2 separate regions of the Homo sapiens genome follow, and region 1 is linked to region 2. A link means that fine-mapping ties the variant in region 2 to the expression of a gene that starts in the linked region. Tissue or cell type: whole blood. Region 2 holds a variant in brackets; the other region holds the start of a gene. Each region is shown on its reference strand, or each on the opposite one.

Region 1 (9,830 bases), not on the chromosome of region 2:
GAGATGGGGTTTCACCATGTTGGCCAGGCTGGTCTCGAACTCCTGACCTCAGGTGATCCACCCGCCTCGGCCTCCCAAAATGCAGGGATTACAGGCGTGAGCCACTGTGTCCGGCCTCATGTATTTTATTGGTTATTGGTTGCACTAGGAATTACCAGCAACATCTTAATTTATAAAAATCCAGTTTGGATTAATACCAATTTAATTTCCACAGAATATAAAAACTGCTTCTCTATGGCTTCACTTTCCTTCCCCATTTCCTTCTGCTGTTATTGTCACAAATTACATCTTCAAAACATTGTCCATCAACTTATATTTGTAATTACTGCATTATGTAGTTGTCTTAAATCAGATGATGGGGGTTACAAACAAAAAATACGTTTATACTGTCTTTTTCATTTACCTGTGTAGTTACCTTTACTGGTGCTTTTCTTTCTTCATGAGAATTCCAGTTGCTGTTTAGTGTCTTTCACTTTCAGCCCAAACGACTCTCTTTAGTGTTTCTCCCAGTGCTAGCAACTAACGGGCTCAGCTTTAGTTTATCTGGGAATATCTTAATTTCTCCTTCATTTCTGAAAGATAGTTTTGCTGGATATAAAATTCTTGGTTGATTCTTTTCACATTTTGAATACATCATCACACTACCCTCTGCATGCATGGTTTTTGATGAGAAGTTAACTGTTTTTATTTTATTGTTGATTCCTTGTGCATGATGAGTTGCTACTTTCTTGCTGCTTTCAAGATTCTCTTTGTTTTCAAAAGTTTGATTATGATGTGTCTAGGTGTAGATCTATTTGAGTTTTTCCTACTTGGAATTCATTAAGCTTCTTGGATGTGTAGATTAATGTTTTTCATCAAATCTGAGAAATTTTAGCCAAAATTTCTTCATATATTCTCGCTTTCCTTTCTCTCTCTCTCTTCTCCTTCTAAGACTTCCATTTTGTGTTATTGGTATATCTGATGGTGTCCCACAGGTCTCTGAGGCTCTTTTCATTTTTCTTTTTCGTTTCTGTTCCACAGACCAGATAATCATCAATTGATCTATCTTCAAGTTTGCTGATTTTTTTTTTCTTTCGCATGCTCAAATCTGCTGCTGAACCCTTCTAGTGAATTTAACATTTCAGTTATTGTACTTTTTGGCTCCAGAACCTTTATTGGTTCCTTATTATAATTTCTGTGTCTTTATTAATATTCTGTTTGGCAAGGCATCATTCTCATCCTTTCTTTTACATTTTTAGAGATGGTTTCCTTTAGCTCTGTGAACATATCAAAAATAGCTGATTTACACTCTTTGTCTACAAAGTTCAGCATCTGGGTTTTCTTAGGAACAGTTTTTATTGATTGCTCTTATTTCCTTTGTATGGGTCTTACTTTCTTGTTTCTTTGCAAGTCACATAATTTTTAGTTGAAAATTGGACATTTCAAACAATGTGCCAACTCTCAAAGTCAGATACTCCTCTCTCCTCAGGGTTTGATTGTGCTTATTTTAGTATTAGGTTGGTGCAAAAATAATTGCGGTTTGCACCAACCTAATAGTTGCTGTTTAGTAACTTTTTTGAACTAATTTTTTAAAGTGTGTATCTTCATTGTGTGTGACTATTGAAGTCTCTACTTGGTCAACTAATGATTAGATGGAGATTTCCTTAAACACCTGGAACCAATATGTCTCCTAGTCTTTGCCAAGGGGCTCTGTATGCACTTTGGGGTATGTCTTCAATTTTCATTAGGCAGTTTGCAACTCTGCATAGCTTTTATTTCCTGCTAGCACAGAGCCTCAGTGTCAGCTAGTAGTGAGAGGTTAGGATCTTCTCAGGTGTTAACAGAGCATGTGCACAGCCCTACACATGCACATGGCCTTCTAAATTCCTGAAAATATACTGGAGCTTTTCAAAGCCCCTATGGACATCTCTTCCTTCAACGTTTCCTTTTACATTTCTTTGTTAGTCTATTGTTTGCCCCTACCGTTACCTATTGCCTCAGCCAGTTACAATGTTAAAATATTTGACAAATCACTCCCTCTTCAGGTGGAAAAACCTTTAGGACTGAGCTAGTTCCAAAGAGGTTGAATAAAGACAACCCTTTTCAGGATTTTTTTCCAGGGACCCACTAGATAGGTTAAATAATGACTCTTCTTTGGGAATGAGACTTTGAAGTAGCTCCAGCCCTGTCTCCTCCCTCTGGTACAGGTACTAGGAACGTGGGCTGTAAGTTTTCAAGGCTGCCATGGAACTAGAGATGGGGGTGCGATAGGACTAGGGTAAATTAAAATACTATAAATATTGCTGTTCTTACTGAGAGTTTGCTGTTTTTCCTGACTAAATGCCAGATGGGTTGCTGCAAACCTGTGACTAATTTCTAGGGCTCTAAGAAAGTTGATTCTGACAATTTTTGTCAGTTCTTTCCTTGCTTCCTTTATGGAAGGGCAAACTTGCTGGGATACTTAATCCACCATTTTCACTGACATCACTCTTCCTTTCTTTTTTAAAAAATGTTATTTTATTGCAAAAAAATATGGAAACCACAACTAAAATTAACTTTTTTTTTGAGACGGAGTCTTGCTCTGTTGCCCAGGCTGGAGTGCAACGGTGCGATCTTGACTCACTGCAACCTCCGCCTCCCTGGTTCAAACGATTTTCCTGCCTCAGCCTCCCAGGTAGCTGGGATTACAGGCACACACCATCACACCTGGCTAATTTTTGTATTTTTAGGAGAGATGGGGTTTCACCAAGTTGGCCAGGCTGGTCTTGAACTCCTGACCTCAAGTGATCCACCCACCTCGGCCTCCCAAAATGCTGGGATTACATGCGTGAGCCACTGCACTCTGCCTAACATTTTAAATTAAAAATTAACATTTTAGGCTAGGCGTGGTGGCTCACTGTAATCCCAGCACTTTAGGAATCTGAGGTGGGAGGACTGCTTGAGGCCAGGAGTTCAAGATCAGCCTGGGCAACAAATGAGACAGTGTCTCTACAAAAAAATATAAAAATTATCTGGGCATGGTGGCACGTGCCTCTAGGCCCAGCTACTTGGGAGGCTAAGGTGGAAGGTTCGCTTGAGCCCAGAAGTTCCAGGTTGTAGTGAGCTATGACTGTACCATTATACTACAGCCTGGGTGACAGACCAAGACCTTGTCTCTAAAACAATAACAAAAACAAAATTAACATTTTATACAATGAAAACATTAAAATCACAATTAAAATCCAAGAGAAAACCCTTCATTCAATTTCCTAATTAAATAAATTCATTTTCATTTGTCCATGTTACTATCTAGTCTTTATCCATACACTTATTATTTACATTTTTGTAGTAATAGTACAGGTAATTTTTTTTTTTTTTTTAAAGATGGAGTCTCACTCTGTCGCCCAGGCTGGAGTGCAGTGTCATGATCTCCGCTCACTGCAATCTCTGCCTCCCGGATTCAAGCGATTCTCCTGCCTGTCTCCCGAGTAGCTGGGATTACTGGCGCCCGTTACCACGCCCGGCTAATTTTTACGTTTTTAGCAGAGACGGGGTTTCACCACGTTGGCCAGGCTGGTCTCAAACTACTGACCTCAAGTGATCCGCCCGCCTTGACCTCCCAAAGTGCTGGGATTACAGGCGTGAGCCACTGTGCCTGGCCTATAGTTAAGATTTTTATATTCATTTTTAGTGAATGTTATACCGTATACCGTAAGTACTCTCCCCCCACAATCCTTCTGCCTCTCATCTTCCCTTTTCCATTTTCCTAATACCTCCTACTGCCTCCTCTCAACTACCCTTGTGTGTTTCTTCATCTTTCTCCGTGCTTATTCAAAAATATCCTGCCACACACACACACACAGGCTTCTCTTTTTGTTATTCAGACATTTAAAAAAATTAATTCTTGATCATTCAACTTGATTATTTAGACATTTCTGTACAGCCATCTTTTCTCGTTTACCACCACATCATGGCTGTCTGCCCCTCTACATCCGCACACGGAGCTCTAACGCATGCTTGTTAAACAGCCTTCGTAATAGTCTTTAAAGATCAACCACACTGTTCCCACGTAACCCTACCTCCCAGGTAGGGTTCCCCCAGTAACACTTTCACACATAACTTATTTACTGTTCCTTTTACTTCTGGAAGATTCCGAGAGGAAAGATTGCTGGGTCAAAGGTCACACGCGTTTTCAATTTTAATAGCTATTCCTGGATTACCTCCTCAAAGGGCTCTAACAACTCGCATTGCTCTCAGCGTGTGAGAGGGTCCTTTGCTCTGAAGGGTCTTCTAAAATATTTGTTCAATCGTTACTTAGCAGGGGCTGGGAGTAACGGATTTTATTTTATTTTATTTTATTTTTTGAGACGGAGTCTCGCTCTGTCGCCCAGGCTGGAGTGCAGTCGCGCAATCTCGGCTCACGGATTTGCTCTTTTAAAGGACATACCCTTTTATGTTTAAATGAAGGAACTCATTGATGCACCGAGGCGAAAGGAACCTTTAATTAAGTGCGTCTTCTATGCGGAGTGATCGCTTTTGTCACTTGTTCGAGGGGTGAGAGCTCCCGTCAGTTGTCCCTGTTTCTGTGAGCCGTCTACGAAGCCCGGGCTTGGCCTGGGCGACGCTGAGCGGCTTTAACCGGCGGCGTCCAGCCGGCTCCGCCAGCGCTGCCGCCGCCCTCGAGGCTCCCTCTGACTGAAGGCGCGCTGAGCATCGCGGCATTAGGGGCTCCTGGTCCCTCAAACATCCAGGGAAGCCATTTTCAGGGACTAGGTACTGACCCCCGCGAGCCGCCACAGCCACAGCCCGCGCTCCGGGCCGAACGCCCGAGCTCAAGAGCTCCCGAGCTTCCGTCGGGCGGCGGCCTCACAGCTGGGGGCCCTGAGGCGGAAGGCGCAGCCGCTCAGCTGCGGACCGGGGGCGTGGCGAGGGCGCACAGGTTCTGTTTTTCGCCGGCCCGGGGCCGCTTTCGGTTTCGTTTCCCGCCGGCGTCTCCACCCTGCGAGAGCCGCCCGCCAGCCAGCGTCCGCCGCCGTCCGCGTCGCGCCACCCGCGGTCCGACGGGAGCAGGCCCAGCGGCCATGGCCCAGGCCGGCGTCGTCGGTGAGGTCACCCAGGTGCTGTGCGCGGCCGGGGGCGCCCTGGAGTTGCCCGAGCTGCGGCGCCGCTTGCGGATGGGCTTGAGCGCCGACGCGCTGGAGCGGCTGCTGCGGCAGCGTGGGCGCTTCGTGGTGGCGGTGCGGGCGGGCGGCGCAGCCGCGGCCCCGGAGCGCGTGGTGCTGGCCGCCTCGCCGCTGCGCCTGTGTCGCGCGCACCAGGGCTCCAAGCCGGGCTGCGTGGGGCTCTGCGCGCAGCTCCACCTCTGCAGGTTCATGGTCTACGGCGCCTGCAAGTTCCTGAGAGCCGGGTAAGGCGCCGCGCCGGGAGCGACGGCGGGCGGAGGTCCTGCGCGCCCTCACGCACTTCCAGCCCGCTTGGGGGTCCTACTTGAAGTTTGAGCAGACAATTCGGTGGCTCTGCCCTGACCTCGCACCGTCATTCACTAAAGCGAGCGTTTAATGAGCACCTGCGGAGTACCTGGCACAGTGCGAGGGACTCAGGGTCGAGTGGGGTCCTCTAGACGCCTGGGGGGAGAGAGTGATTTACATAGAGCATGGTAGTGCCGGGTGGAACACCCGGGTGTGGCCGTGTGGGGTGGGGAGGGAGGGAGGCGGCGGCTTAGGGGAACTCCACGACGCCGCGGGTCGCCCCTTGCCAGCTTTGAGGCCAGACAATGAAGGTTTTCTCTGCCCAGCAGCTGGTAGAGATCTTTAAACCCAGTTCAACCCTATTAATCTGCTTACAAACTGGAAAATGCAGACTCCCTGCCATCGCCCACAAGGTCCTGGGGCACTGGTCCCTGCCCACCCAGGACCCTTCTGTGACTGGAACACCCCCCCCCCCCCGGGCATTTCTGGGAGCCTGGGCATTTCTGGGAGTCTTTGCTCTGCCTGGAATGCCCTTCTTGCTCTTGGTTGGCCCTATTTGTTAATCCTTCAGGCCTCAACCTAAAGATCACATCCCATTTGAGGATTTTTCCTCCCCTTACTCTTGGTCACAGGGAACTGTTTATTTTCCTCATGGCACCCAGCTGCCAGTAGAATAGAAACTCCCTGAGGGCAGAGGCTCCAGCTGTCTCCCCAGCACTTAGCGTCCATGTTCTGTGCATAGCATGTGGCCAGTGGGATGTGTGGAAGGGATTGCTGAGGTTTATGCTAAAGAATTTGGGCCTCACCCTGGAGGTGATGGGGCGGGTAAAATGGCAGGAGAGAGCAACCATCAGGTTTGCGTTTTAGGAAGTCTAAGGTAGTGGTGTGGGTGCCAATTTAAGGGAGGATGTTGTGGGGGAACCACTGGGAAGCTAGTCATCAAGGAGAATTCCTTCCTCCCCTGCTCCCTCCTTTCTTGCTTGCTCCCTGTTTTGTGTGTGTGTGTGTATGTTTGTCTTAATAGAGTAGATATTTCTTGCTCATGTCAGGCCCAGTAGTGAGCATGGGGTGGGGGCCTTGATCCATACAGTCATTCAGGGATGCAGGCTGACTGACCTCCGCTCTGTGCCCCTCAGCACATGGCTCTTGAGGCCAGCCTAGGTTATCAAGTTCGAGGGGGCTGATCGAAAAGAGGGATGCATGGGAGGTTTTTGTGGGCCAGGTCTAGAAGTGGTGGATTTCCTTTCACCCACATCCCATTGACCAGAAGCTGTCTCGTGACCCTGTCTAGATGCAGGGTGACTGGGAAATGCCTCTAGGAAGCAGCTGTCTGGAAGTATCTAGATTAGAGCTTTCCAAGGGCTATGTGTGTGAGAAATTTGGGATAGCTGGTGACGGTGTGATGAGAGGATATGTGAGAGGTGACGACTCTTCAGTCTCTGTTCCTGCGGTGGCCTGGGTGTTGTTCACTGAGAGAGCAAGAGAGGGTTTTAGTTTGGAAGCATGCCCAGGAGGCAGCTGTTCAGGTCAGAAGCTTGGGAGGAAGGCCAGGGCCCCAATGCGCTGGGCTGGTTTGGGAGATATTGGGCGGTGTATGTTGTAGTTGCAGCCCCAGGAGTGGATCAGATCTGAGGTAGCGTCTGAGGCCTGAAAAGAGGCTGAGGGTGGAACTCTGGGGAAATCAGCCTTCAGGGATGAGGCAGTCCAGGGGAGAGCAGGGAACAACAGCCCACGAGGAGGAAGGCACACAGCAAATGGTGGCTGGATAGAGCCACTCATGGGGGTAACTGGTAGATCTGTTTCATGTTCATATTTGGTAAAATAAAGATGGCAGCCCTGTTCTTAAGCTAGTTCCCAAAATGTGGGGTCAGGTCTGACTTGTCTCGGAAATCTGTAGTGTGATATTTACTGGCTCAGATGACCTTGAGTTTTCTTCTTTCTTCAGTTTTCTCTTTTCCTTGTGGTTTACACAGGTGAGTTTCTTGAACCTTCCATTTCTGACTCACTTTAGGGAGAGTGGGTGTGGTTGGCTGCACTTTTCTGCTTCCCCTGTGACTCTGCTTGTCTTCCTGAACCGCAGGGTCAGTTCTTTTAGAAATAGCTCATCAGTCCTGCTGCAGAGCTGGTACGGAGTCCTGGGTGCCTGACTCTTAGTCCTCTACTCAGGAGGCATTGAGCCTGGTGGTCTAGGGCACAGTCCCAAGATCCAGCCCACCTTGTTTCAACCTGGGCTCTGCTCCTTGCTAGCTGATGGCTTCGGGCAAGTGACTTTACCTCCAGGTCTCAGTTCCCTCATCTGCAAAGTGGAGTTAATGATATTACTACCCTCACAGGCTGGTTGAGGACTGAATGATTAACTCATAAAACATTTTGGCAATCCCCGATATTTGGCAGTTGCTCAATAAATTTTAGTAGTCATTATCATTGTTACCATCAGTCATCGTTACACTTATTAGATATATTTGGCTCTGGCAGCACCAAATTATTTGCCCCTCTTCTGGAATGTTCTTCCTTTCTCTTGCTGTCTCCTCCTCACCCTTTAAGTATTCCACTCAGGCTTTATGCCATCCAGCATGCTCCCCTGATTTCTTCCCCAGTTCTCTCCCAGCCCTGACTGGCTCAGGTGCCCTTCCGCTCTGCGCTGACAGATTCTGACAACAGCTGACGTTGCACTTTCCACTCCGTATCAGAGTCTCCTCTATGTCTGTCACCTCCGCTAGATGAGGGAAAGAGAGCAGGCAAGGATGGCTTCAGGGTTTTTGGTCTGTGCAGTGGGAGAGGGAAGTTGCCTTTTACTGAGCTGGGGGATTCTGTAAAAGGTGCAGGTTTGGGGTGGATCAGGGTTTGGCATTCTCCTGAGATGTGGCATAGGAGGCATGGCAGTGCCAGAGTCAAACAAATGCTGTTGGCCTGACTCTTCTGGGTCCTGGTGACTCAGGCAGTCATTTAAAGGTTTATCTTTGGGTTCTCAGGGCATGGTGCCAATGTCTGGCTCACCCTGGTGCTTATCAGACGCTTGTGGATGGAAAGAATGGAGGAAGAGAGCAAAAAAAAAAAAGCTAGGTTCAGGGCTCTGTGTGTGTGTGTGTGTGTGTGTGTATACACGCCTGCACGCATGCACATATGTAACCTATAATGATAAGATGCCATGCTCATTGATTCAGCCTGTGGCTAACTGCTTACCGACTGACTGCTGTGCAGCAACTCCTCTTTGTCATTCTCATCAAATGCTTGTTCAGAGGCGCTGTCCTGGGCCTTAGACCTTGCAAGGCCCCATCTCCTCCTTGGTAAATACACATTGGATTTTTTGTTGTTGTCATGTAGACATGCTGGTTTTTCTTTTTTTCTTTCTTTTTTTTTTTTTTGAGACAGAGTCTCGCTCCTGTTGCCCAGGCTGGAGTGCAATGGCGCAATCTTGGCTCACCACGGCCTCCGCCTCCTGGGTTCAAGCGATTGTCCTGCCTCAGCCTCCTGAGTAGCTGGGATTACAGGCATGCACCACCTCGCCCGGCTAATTTTGTATTTTTAGTAGATACAGGTTTTCTTCATGTTGGCCAGGCTAGTCTCGAACTCCCGACCTCAAGTGATCCATCCACCCTGGCCTCCTAGAGTCCTGGGATTATAGGCGTGAGCCACCATACCCAGCCTACATGCTGGTTTTTCTCTGGTGCTTGTAAATACTGTCAGGAAGTGTTTCTGAAAAATTGTCATGAAGACTGATTTTATCAGCTTTCAGTTTGCCAGCGCTGCCATAACAAAGTACCATAGACTAGGAGGCTTAAACGACAGAAATCGATTTTGTCACAGTTCTGGAGGCTAGAAGTCTGAGATCAAGGTGGCAGGGTTGATTTCTTCTGAGGCCCCTCTCCTTGGCTTGTAGATGGCCACCTTCTCACCATGTCCTCGCATGGTCTTCCCTCTGTGTGTGTCTGTGCCCCAATCTCTTCTTTTTTTTTTTTTTGAGACTGAGTCTCACTCTGTTGCCCAGGCTGGAGTGCAGTGGCTCACTGCAAGCTCCGCCTCTCGGGTTCATGCCATTCTTCTGCCTCAGCCTCCAGAGTAGCTGGGACTACATGCGCTCACCACCACGCCCCGCTAATTTTTTATATTTTTAGTAGAGACGGGGTTTCACTGTGTTAGCCAGGATGGTCTCAATCTCCTGACCTCGTGATCCTCCTGCCTCGGCCTCCCAAAGTGCTGGGATTACGGGCATGAGCCACCGTGCTTAGCCAAATCTCTTCTTATAAGGACAGTAGTCTTGTGGGTTTGGGGCCCACCCTATGGACCTCTTTTTAACTTAATTACCTCTTTAGAGACCTTCTTTCCAAATAGAGCCATATCCTGAGGTCGTGGGAGTTAGGACTCCAACATAGAAATTTTGAGGAGACTCAATTCGACATATAA
Region 2 (9,854 bases):
ATTACCTTAGACTTGTTTTCTAGTCATTGTATGTATTTTTGCTTTATGTCTCCAATGGATCTAGTAGCCATTGCACTTATTTATCTGTTCAATATCATCTATTTTATATACCCATTCTCCAGTGGATCTACTCACCATTTATTTACCCATCTATTACATAAGAAACAGACATGGCATGTAGCGAATATAAAGGTTAAGGATGGACTCTGAATGGAGGTGACATTTTAGAGGGTCACTTGGAAAACAAGAAGAGGAAAACAAGAAAAGGACCACCTTAAAGGGTGGAGGGAAGAGACTTCCCGGACAAAAACAACTGCATAGCATGAGTCCCATGTGAAGAAAGCCTGGAATGTTCAAGGAACTGCAAAAAGGCCAGGGTGGTTGAAGAGTGATGAGTAAGGAGAATGACCTAAAATGAGGTTGGAAAAAAGGGCAGAGCCAGCTCACACAGGGCCCCGTTGGCCACTGTCTGGAGCTGGATTTCAGTCTGAAGATAATCAGAAGCTGCTGGAGATTTTCATCCAGGGAGTGACAAGAATTGATATACACTCCAGCTACTCTGACAAATTGGTTGAAAGGGACAAAATAGAAGCAGAGAGAGCAGTTAGATGGCACTAAGCAAGTCTATTGTGTGGAATAGGGCGATAGTGATGGAATGGACTAGAAAAGAGGCATATTGGTGGCAGATTTGTTGATAGACAAGATATGAGGAAATCAAACAAAAGGAGAAATTGAGGATAAGTCTTATAAAAGTACTGACCTCCCCTTCAGATCTCCGTGAATTTAATATACACAATTAAGTTACGTTAAGTACCTGTTGGGGAAGCCAAGTGAGGGCAACAAGGGAAGGACAGCAATGCTTTCCCTAACAAAGCAAAGAATGGTACATGAGACCCTGGCGGACACAGCAAGGACTTCAGTAACATTAGTCACCATCTGAGTGACCACAGAAGATCACTTAACCTCTTATGTCTGTTTCCTTCTCTGTGGGCCAGGACAGCAACATCAAGGGTTTGCGCTCTGGAATCAGACTGCCTAGGTTTTTATTCCAGCTCTTTTGCTTACTCTTAGACAAATTGCTTATCTTCATCCCAGTCTGTAAAATGTGAATAATAACAAGACCTGTGTCTTGTGTTTATAGTGCAGGTTAAATGAAATAATATGAATAATGCATTTAGAACAGTGCCTGGTGCATAGTAAGCAATAAATGTATATCACTAGCTGCTGTGAAATGGATTGTTGGGGGGATTAAATGAGAAAATGTTTGCATAGTAGATAAAAAAATTATAGCTTGCAAAAAACTAAACTGCCTTTGTTTTAGAGAGAGAGAGAAAGAGAGAGACAGAAAGAGAAACTGTCTTTGCTTTAGAAACCCCTAATGGGTGGATTTATTTTTTAAGATGAGACCTTGTTGTGACTCTACTGGGAATGAATCAAGGAAATAGCTTAACTGTTTTGCACAAAACAGGATCATTTAGAAAGAGCTAGAAAGGAAGCAAGAAAATGTTGAAGAAAGACAAAGTCCTTGGAACAGGCAGGAGGCTGGAACCCAAGTAGAAGAAATTACTAGTGGAAATTCCACCATCATTGTCCTAAAACACTAGTAAACCTGCTACTTACTTGGGTTGGTGTTATCTGGCATGAGTAGTCAGGGCTCTCTGGTAGGGCAATGTGGAAATGATGAAGGCAGAGCATGCATACACACAAAAAAGTGGACTCAGAGATTTCTCAATAACAAATGTTGAACACATGTTACAGTTACTGGCACAGAGGAAGCATTCAATAAATATTAATTTCGTTTTCTGATTTGTGATATAAAATGTAATCTCTGACCTTGGAGAGTTAACAAATTGGTTGAGAGTCCAATGATTATAGGCATAAAACTATTAGAAGAAATATAAGCATACAACAACAACATGGTATACAAATTATAGGCACTGTAGAGTTTATAAAAGTCAGGGATCAATCAGAGAAGTTCTGGATTATTTTAGAAAAGATTCTGAATTAGAATAAATAAATAATTCAAATAATGTCTTACATATATGAGGTGTTAGATCCATATTTAATATAATTTAAAGACAGGAAAAGAGTAAGAAGTTTTTTCCAAAAAGAGATAAAGATCAAGAAAGAAGAAGAAAGCCTAATACATTTTGCTTGTGTACTAGAATGCTATACTGTATCTGGGTTTGATTGATAACTAATATGAAGTTATTCTTGAGCAGGGAAATGGCATGTTTTAGAAAAGATGACCTACAAGGAGTTAATGGGCTAAATCAAAGATTGAAGAAAAAAAGTGGAAGGAAAAAGATCAAGGAAAAAGCTGGTTGCAGTCATTCTGGCTGAGGTTAACAAAAATCTGGATTTGGTCATTGGCAGTGGGAGGGGGAATGGGAGGAATGAGTGGCTCTGGATGATGTTCAAATAAAATCATGAGCTAGGGAAAGCAGGCTAGCATGACATTGATGGCAATAAATAAAATAAATATGAAAGTATAGCACAGTTGGTGATAGAAACAAATGCAAGTAATTTATTCGCATCACCTTATTTTTGCCCTAAATATGACTCATAGTTCTGCTTGGTCATCAACTAGTGCCACATGTAGTCATATTCCTGGCATACGGAATAACTATTTTATTGTACCCAAAAATTTGCTCACTGGGCTCCAGCTGTTTCATAGTCTATCCACACTGAGCCATGGCAGATACAATTCTCTTGTCCTGAGGAAAATGTTTAAAGCAAGTCAGAATCTCTTTTGAATAGGAATAGAGCAAACCTTTTAACTTCCCAGAGATTCTGGTTTCCTAGAAGAGTGAACATAATGAGTCTTGAGTACTTACTATGCTCATTTCCACTCTGTCAATGAGGGCAAACTAGTGGTATGACCTAGGTGCTATTTTGGTCTCTGTTTTGAACTGAATTTTTTTTATGAACTCCAAATTTGTATATTGAAGTCTTAACTCCCACTGTGATGGTATTTGGAGATGGGTCCTTTGAGAGTTAATTAGGTTTAGATGAGGTAATGAGGTGTGGCCCTTTTGATGGGATTAGTGCCCTTGCAGAAGAAGAAACCAGAGAGCTCCTCCCACTCCCCCACCCCTCTACCTTGTGATTATATAGTAGGAAGGTGGCTGTCTGCAGGCCAGGAAGAGAGCCCTCACCAGAACCTGACCATGCTGACACCCTGATCTCAGACTTACAGCCTCCAGAACTGTGAGGAGAAAATTAATTTCTGTTGTTCAGGCCACCCAGTCTTTGGCATTTTGCATGGCAGCCTGAGCTAATACAGCCTCTCAATAGCTAAATGAGGAGCCCAAAAGGTTACCAATTTAGAAAGGCCAGGGAAATGTGTTACTGAGAATGTTGCATAACGAGAATGTCCATTATGTTGTTTTTTCCATTTCTACTCTGCTATAGTCTGTGGCCTGAGATAACAACTTTATCAGACTTTAAGATTATCCTGGACCAGCTCTGTCCAATAAAACTATAGTGAGATACACACAACTAATTTAAAAATTTTTAATAGCTACATTTTAAAAAGTCACAAGAAGTAGGTAAAATTAAATTTAATAACTCAATTCAATATAGTCAAAATATTATAGACATGCTACCAATATAAAATTATTAATAAGATAGTTCAAATTTTTTTCCTACTAAGTCTTTAAAAATTGTTGTGATGTGCTATTTTACTCTTATAGCACATCTCAATTTGGACATGCCACATTTCAAGTGCTCAATAGATACATGTGGCTAGTGGCTACTGTACCAGATAGTGTTCTAGACATTTCATTTTTTTAAGAAAGACATAGACACAGTTTGTTTAAATATGAAGTCCCAGTTTTCTTCTTGAGGGTTATTACCTGGCTTTAAAGTCCCTTATTTTTCTCTTAACTCTTTGAAGTCTTCTCTTTCTGGTTGCGCCCATCTTTGTATCATAAAACAATTAATTATAAGACCACGTAATGGACACTGTGGTCCTGCTATGGTTTGAAAGTGTGTGTCCCCTAAAGATTCACATGTTGGAACCTAAGACCCAATGTGATAGTATTAAGAAGGGTCTGTAGGAGGTTATCAGACTATGAGGGCTCTGTCCTCATGTGTGGAATTAGTGCCCTTATAAAAAGGCTTACGGGAGTCAGCTATTAGGCTCCTTTCGCCCTTCCACTCTTTGTCATATGAAGACACAGCAAGAAGGCCCTCACCAGACACCCAAATGCCAGTGCTTTAATCTTGGACTTTGCATCCTTTGGAACTGTGAGAAATAAATTGCTATTGTTTATAAATTACCCAGTCTTAGGTATTTTGTTATAGCAGAGGAATGGACCAAAACAGATTCTTTGTGAAGATTCCCTCTTCAGGGCCAAGGTACTCACCTTCCTGGGGCTATGAATATGGCTGCTGACAGCTCACAGCTGCCTCTCTTAACGAGTATTGTCCTAGGCTGTGGGGAACTATTTCCTCTCAGGCTATGCCCTCTGGAGGGTAGCCTGAAGCCAAATAATGACTGATGAGGGGCATAAGTCTGTTTCATTTACTCCACTTGAGACAACTCTGAAGGGACAGTCCAAATCCTGAAGTCTCTGAAGGGCTGGCTGAGGCCTCCTTTGACACTGTACTGCAGTTCAGCATTTCACTCTGCCCCATGCTGTTTCCTTCACTTTCCTACAGGTGTCTCTTGTAAGAGCAACTCCCCCTTACTCCTTCCAAAAAAATAAGCTGACTCTGTTTGCATCTCTTCATCTCAAAATCTGTTTCCAGGGAACTCAGTTTAAAAGAGAATATAAAGTAGTCTCTTTTTTACCAAGGCAAAATCATTAGCAGTGTTTGAAGTAAGGGAGGAAAAGCAGAACAAGGCTCTGATTCATTTTTGTGTCTTATACTTCCCCACATGCGAGCAAGGCTAGGACGTACTCTGACCCTCTGGCTCTTCATGTCTGTTCACTCCCATTGCCTTTCTTTTCCTATATTTTTCCCAAAGATCAAAGTGACAACTGAGTAAAGGGTATAGTCAAAACTCAGGTTCAGCAACTGCATTGGTCAAAACATGAGAAACATAACCCCAAATGAAAAAGATATCAATGGCACAATATGGTAGCCCATACATGTATTGACACCATTAGAATACTGTCTTGTCTTTACTTTTCCTGACTCTCCAGGGCTGATCTGCATGGGTAGAGATGCTGAGCAGTTCTGCCATTGACATTAGTAGCTTCATCTTCTAATGCAATCATTGCCTTCATTTTCTTTCTTCTTCCTCAGGGAAATTCCACCCTTC[T/C]AGGCTTTATATTTATGACCCCATGCTGGTGTCTGTGGGTCTCTGCTTTCCCAGAACACTCTCTTCACTGCCTTAGACTGGTAGTCTAGTCCAGACTAGTAGTCTTTTAACGCTTTAAAAGATGGGGTGTGGGGAGATCAAATACTCTTTGTCTTAAAACTTGGGCTTGTCTGCTACACAAAGTCCTGCCCATGGTAGTGGCAGTCACATAATAGGACAGTAAATTAATGCCTGAACAGATTGTGCAGTTCCACAGAGTCCACCTTCCCCGGCTTTCCTTTCTCCTGCCTACTGCTTCCTCCATCCTTCTTCACAACTCCCTCCCCTGTGACGCTTTCTTCCAGAGGATGAGTCTGGAGGAGGAGGCAGCATGAAAGGGAGAACTTGCTGCATCAGAGTTTGTGCCAATTGGAGGGAAAGCGCAATCCCTCAGCAGCCTGATGGTCCAGATGGCCCCAAAGGCTTTGCAGAGCTCAGAGGCCCCCAGACAACTCCTTGTCTACATCAGCTTAGCATTGCCACTAAAATTGATGTTATACCAAGTCATCCCCCAAAAGCATGGTAAATCACTTGTTATAAAAAAAGAGTCCCACAGTTTTGGCACATGAACCTCACAAGGATTTTTCGAGATTTCTAGCATTTCCAGAATTTAATCAAATGATTGTTCTTATAATTAATTATAGTATTCTAGTACTATTATATATTTTTATAAAAATTACAATTGCTGAAAAGAATCACAGTGGAACACAGTATTATTAGATAATGCATTCATTCAAATTTCACTAATTAAAATGTCAAAAGGAAGTAGACATGGAGTTCAACTAATTCTCAATTTACTAATCCATAAAACAGATACTTCTCATAAATAGCTGGTAATCTTTCCTCAGTTCTCAGGAAAAATAACTGAATAGCTGCAGTAAACTCTCCTATTACTAATTCTCCACATTACAATTTTTTTAAAACCTACAATTTATCTTGAAAGGCACCCTGAAGCAGTAGCACAAGGATTAAATGCCCATTTTTAGATAACAATAGTTAACGTCTAATTGTTTAATAAAAAAAAGGAGCTTGACCCTTTCCTGGTAACACCTGGAAGTGCTCCCTCTTGGTGTTGTCTAGCCTGGGCCATGGAGGGCCGCAGGACAGCTCCGTATCCTCTCTGTCATTCATTCATTAATTCATTCAGGCAACGATATTGATTAAATACTTATTTTATGCCAAGCATTGTTCCTCAGCTCTTGGGATATATGAGCAAAACAAACAAAAGTACTTGCCCTCATGGAGCTCCATGCAGGGAAAAGAGGCAATAAGCAATAAAAATAATAAATGTTTTAAGATGTTGGATGGTGGTAAGATCTATGGGGGGGAAGAAAGTAAGATCAGAAAAATGGGAAGCTAAGGGGAGCTGATTTTAAATGGGGAATTGGGCCTAATTTAGAAGGTAACATTTGAGCAAGGACTTAGCCCATTTTGGTAATGTCTTTATTATTTTTTCATCCATAAATCTTATGTTCCTATCATTCTCTTTTTCTTTCCCAGTGCCTTCTACCAGACACATAAGAAACATTATGTATGCATGGGCTTAAAACTACACAGACCTTGAGTCAGGGCCAGTTAATTTTTTCATGATAGCATCTGATTTATATCTGGAAAACCTGAGGCCTGGCCTTACACATTGTAACAGTATGATATGACGATATGATGTAAGATATGCTACACAAATTTCTGTCTTCTCCTTTCCTAGTCTCTTTACTGCCTTAAAATCTACTTCCTGAAATAGTTACATAACTTTCCCATCAGCCAGCCATGCTGCCTAAATTCACCACCGTTAAGATATTCATTACTTTAGATTAAAGCATGGCATTTTTAGTGATTCTCTTTTAAAATTCAAACTTGCCATGGGAATAAGACTTTAAAAAAAATCATTCAAGCTCATGAAAGAAAAAGGCTGCATTTGTGGCATGGCTCCCTCTGATGGGCCAGCGGCCAAACTAGAGGACACGGAGTCCAGGAAGTCCACAGCGGAGACCAGGCAAGGACTGGAAGGTCCTATACTTGACCCTGATATTTTTTACTTACACAAAGAAATATGTTCTATAACTTTCTTGATTAGCTGGCCCTCTCACCTAATTTTATTTTCTCACTGGGATACCATATTTTTTACCTCTGATGGAATAGCACACCAAGGAAGGGGTATGGTAGGAGTAGAGTCATCTGCCTCAGCAGGAAAAAATGTTCTATCTTGAAAATAGTTTAGATTTTCTGGACATGGTGATAATAAAGAGAAGACCAACTTTTAGTGAGAATTACTACTATTTACAAATATACCGTAGACATTGCACCGCTTTTTTTATCTGCTTCCAGGGCAGACCATGGCACCAAGCCCCACCTTGGTACTCATGGCTCTGAGACATGTATTTCCAGAGTTTTCACTATGTACACAGCTACATAAACATTTCCTTCTTCCCCTCCACAAAAATAAAGTCGTATTATATATACTAAGCAACAGAATGTAGACATTTTCCATGTCAACCAATTTAGACCTGCACCATTCATTTTTATGTGTTACATAATTTATTTATCTAATTTTGTCTGGATGAATTCTTAAATAGTTTTAATTTCTGGATATTGTAAACAAAGTTTCAAAAAGTATTCTTGAACTTGCATCTTTGTACATTTATCCAATGTTAACCTTAAAGTACATTCCTAGAGTTAGATTTGCTATACCAAAAAATATGCATAATTTTGACATTTACTCGTAAACTTCCCTCCAGAAAGTTTTCAGTCCTTCTTCTACCACCAGCTGATTATGAAAGTGCCAACTTCTCTACAGCCTTGCTACCAGTGTGGTTCTCCAATCTTTTTAATCTCTGATAATCCAAATTAAAATGATCCTATTTTGATATTTTATTTTGCATTTCTTTGATTCCTGGTAATATTTAACATTTTTATTTTTATATTTTCACCTTTTGTGAATGTGTGGGTTTGCCTGCATGAACTGCCTGCTTTGGTCCTTTACCCATTTTTTTTTTTTTTTGAACTGCACTGTGGACCAAATGTTCCTAAAAAGGGAAAAAGACGCCAAGCACAAATTCCATCTATAGTATGAGACTACTTAGGAATAGACCTAATATCCATCACATGAGTTTGTAGACTTATTTTTGAACTTCTGAAATGATATTTAAAAATCATATGGCTTCTGTATTTCTATGAATGTAAGCATTTCCCTTCCTACAATGTGTTCTCAACACCATTTGTTGATGACATGGCAGGGACTGTTAAGTGTACCTCCAATTCTTATTCTGGTCTTCACAGGGCAGATCTCTTCACTACCTGCTTTGGGAGATGAGGACATGGGCTTTCCTGCCCTCTGTCTACCTTACCTACCTTTCTTCACTCTCTTTCACTTCCCGACTTTGGTTACATGTACATTTACCTTTATACTTGTCAAGGTTGACAATTTCTCTGACTATAAAGGTCTCAGTGACTTCTAAAAATTTTAAATCAATAAACAGTTTAAATTGCTATGGCTACCTAAGCATTGCTCTTGAGCTAACTGGTTTGGTAGGATCACATTTCTTTCTCTGTGGCACCAATTCCCGTGCTGTTCAGCGGAGAACGTACATAGAGATTCTGCTTTTACAGTCCATCTAGTATCTCCAAACATTATTGTGACTACCAGAACTCTTGGTTCCAAATGGTATGAAAAACAACCCAAACTTGGAAAAAAATTACTTACTCAAGAAAATAGATCTGACTTCAGAAGTGGCTGGAGATAGGAAGTCACACAATGTTTGTTGTTAGCATCTGGTCTGGTCATTTGCTCTCTGAGTGATGGCTCTAGTACTTTACTTCTTTATTTTGCTGAAATACACCCTTGAGTTCCTTTCTACAAAAGAATGCTTGGAGTATAAACTCTGAATTATGACACATCTGAAAATCTTTTATTTGGTCTTCATATTTGGCAGTGTCTTAGCTAAGCAGATTCTAGTTTGATTAGCATTTTATTTCAGAACTCTGAAAAACAGATCCATTGTTTTGCAGCATCTGATTGGCAATGACAAGTGTGTGGTCAGTCCAATTCTTGCTTCTTTCACATGATACTTTTTTTTTCCTAAGGAAGAATATAAAATTTATCTTTATAATCAATATTATAGAATTTCACAATTATGTGTTTAGGTAAAAGTCTTTTCTCATATTTTGTGCTGGACATTTTGTGGGCCCTGAAAAATGTATTTTCTTTTACAGTTTGGGGAAATTCCCTTGCATTCATTCTGTAAGAACCTCTTCCCCTCTGCCTTCTCTGCCCTTTATTCCTCAAACTTCCTGAGTTTATATGTTATGTCTCTTAACTTTCCATTATATTATCCAACTTTGCCTTTCTGTTCTGAGAGGCTTCCTCAATTTTATTTCACAAAACCTATTTTGATTTAAATAAATTTTGGTGATCATATTTTCAATACATTAGAGCATATTCATCAAGGTTCTTCAGAGAAAAGAACTAATGGGAGATAGACAGGTAGGTAGGTAGATAGATAGATAGATAGATAGATAGATGATAGATAGATAGATGTTAGATAGG

Evidence for each region. PIP is the estimated chance that this variant, and not a neighbour inherited with it, causes the effect. A credible set is the group of variants that fine-mapping cannot tell apart.
Region 1: PARP12 starts here. The variant in region 2 is the best candidate, but not a certain one, in a credible set for the expression of PARP12 in whole blood (TOPMed, PIP 0.78).

Annotation. Positions count from the first base shown.
Region 1 is chr7:140,058,057-140,067,886 of GRCh38, reverse strand. PARP12 (poly(ADP-ribose) polymerase family member 12) reads left to right here and starts at 4,936. Exons shown (of 12, transcript NM_022750.4): 1 at 4,936-5,365. The coding sequence starts at 5,040. RefSeq lists an enhancer at 4,789-4,998 and a silencer at 5,009-5,328.
Region 2 is chr2:162,249,445-162,259,298 of GRCh38, reverse strand. It overlaps LOC105373724 (a long non-coding RNA gene), which reads right to left. Exons shown (of 4, transcript XR_923544.3): 3 at 9,012-9,386. Among named protein-coding and RNA genes, the nearest start is that of FAP, 11 kb to the right of the region's middle. The variant T/C (reference allele first, on the strand shown) is at 5,273.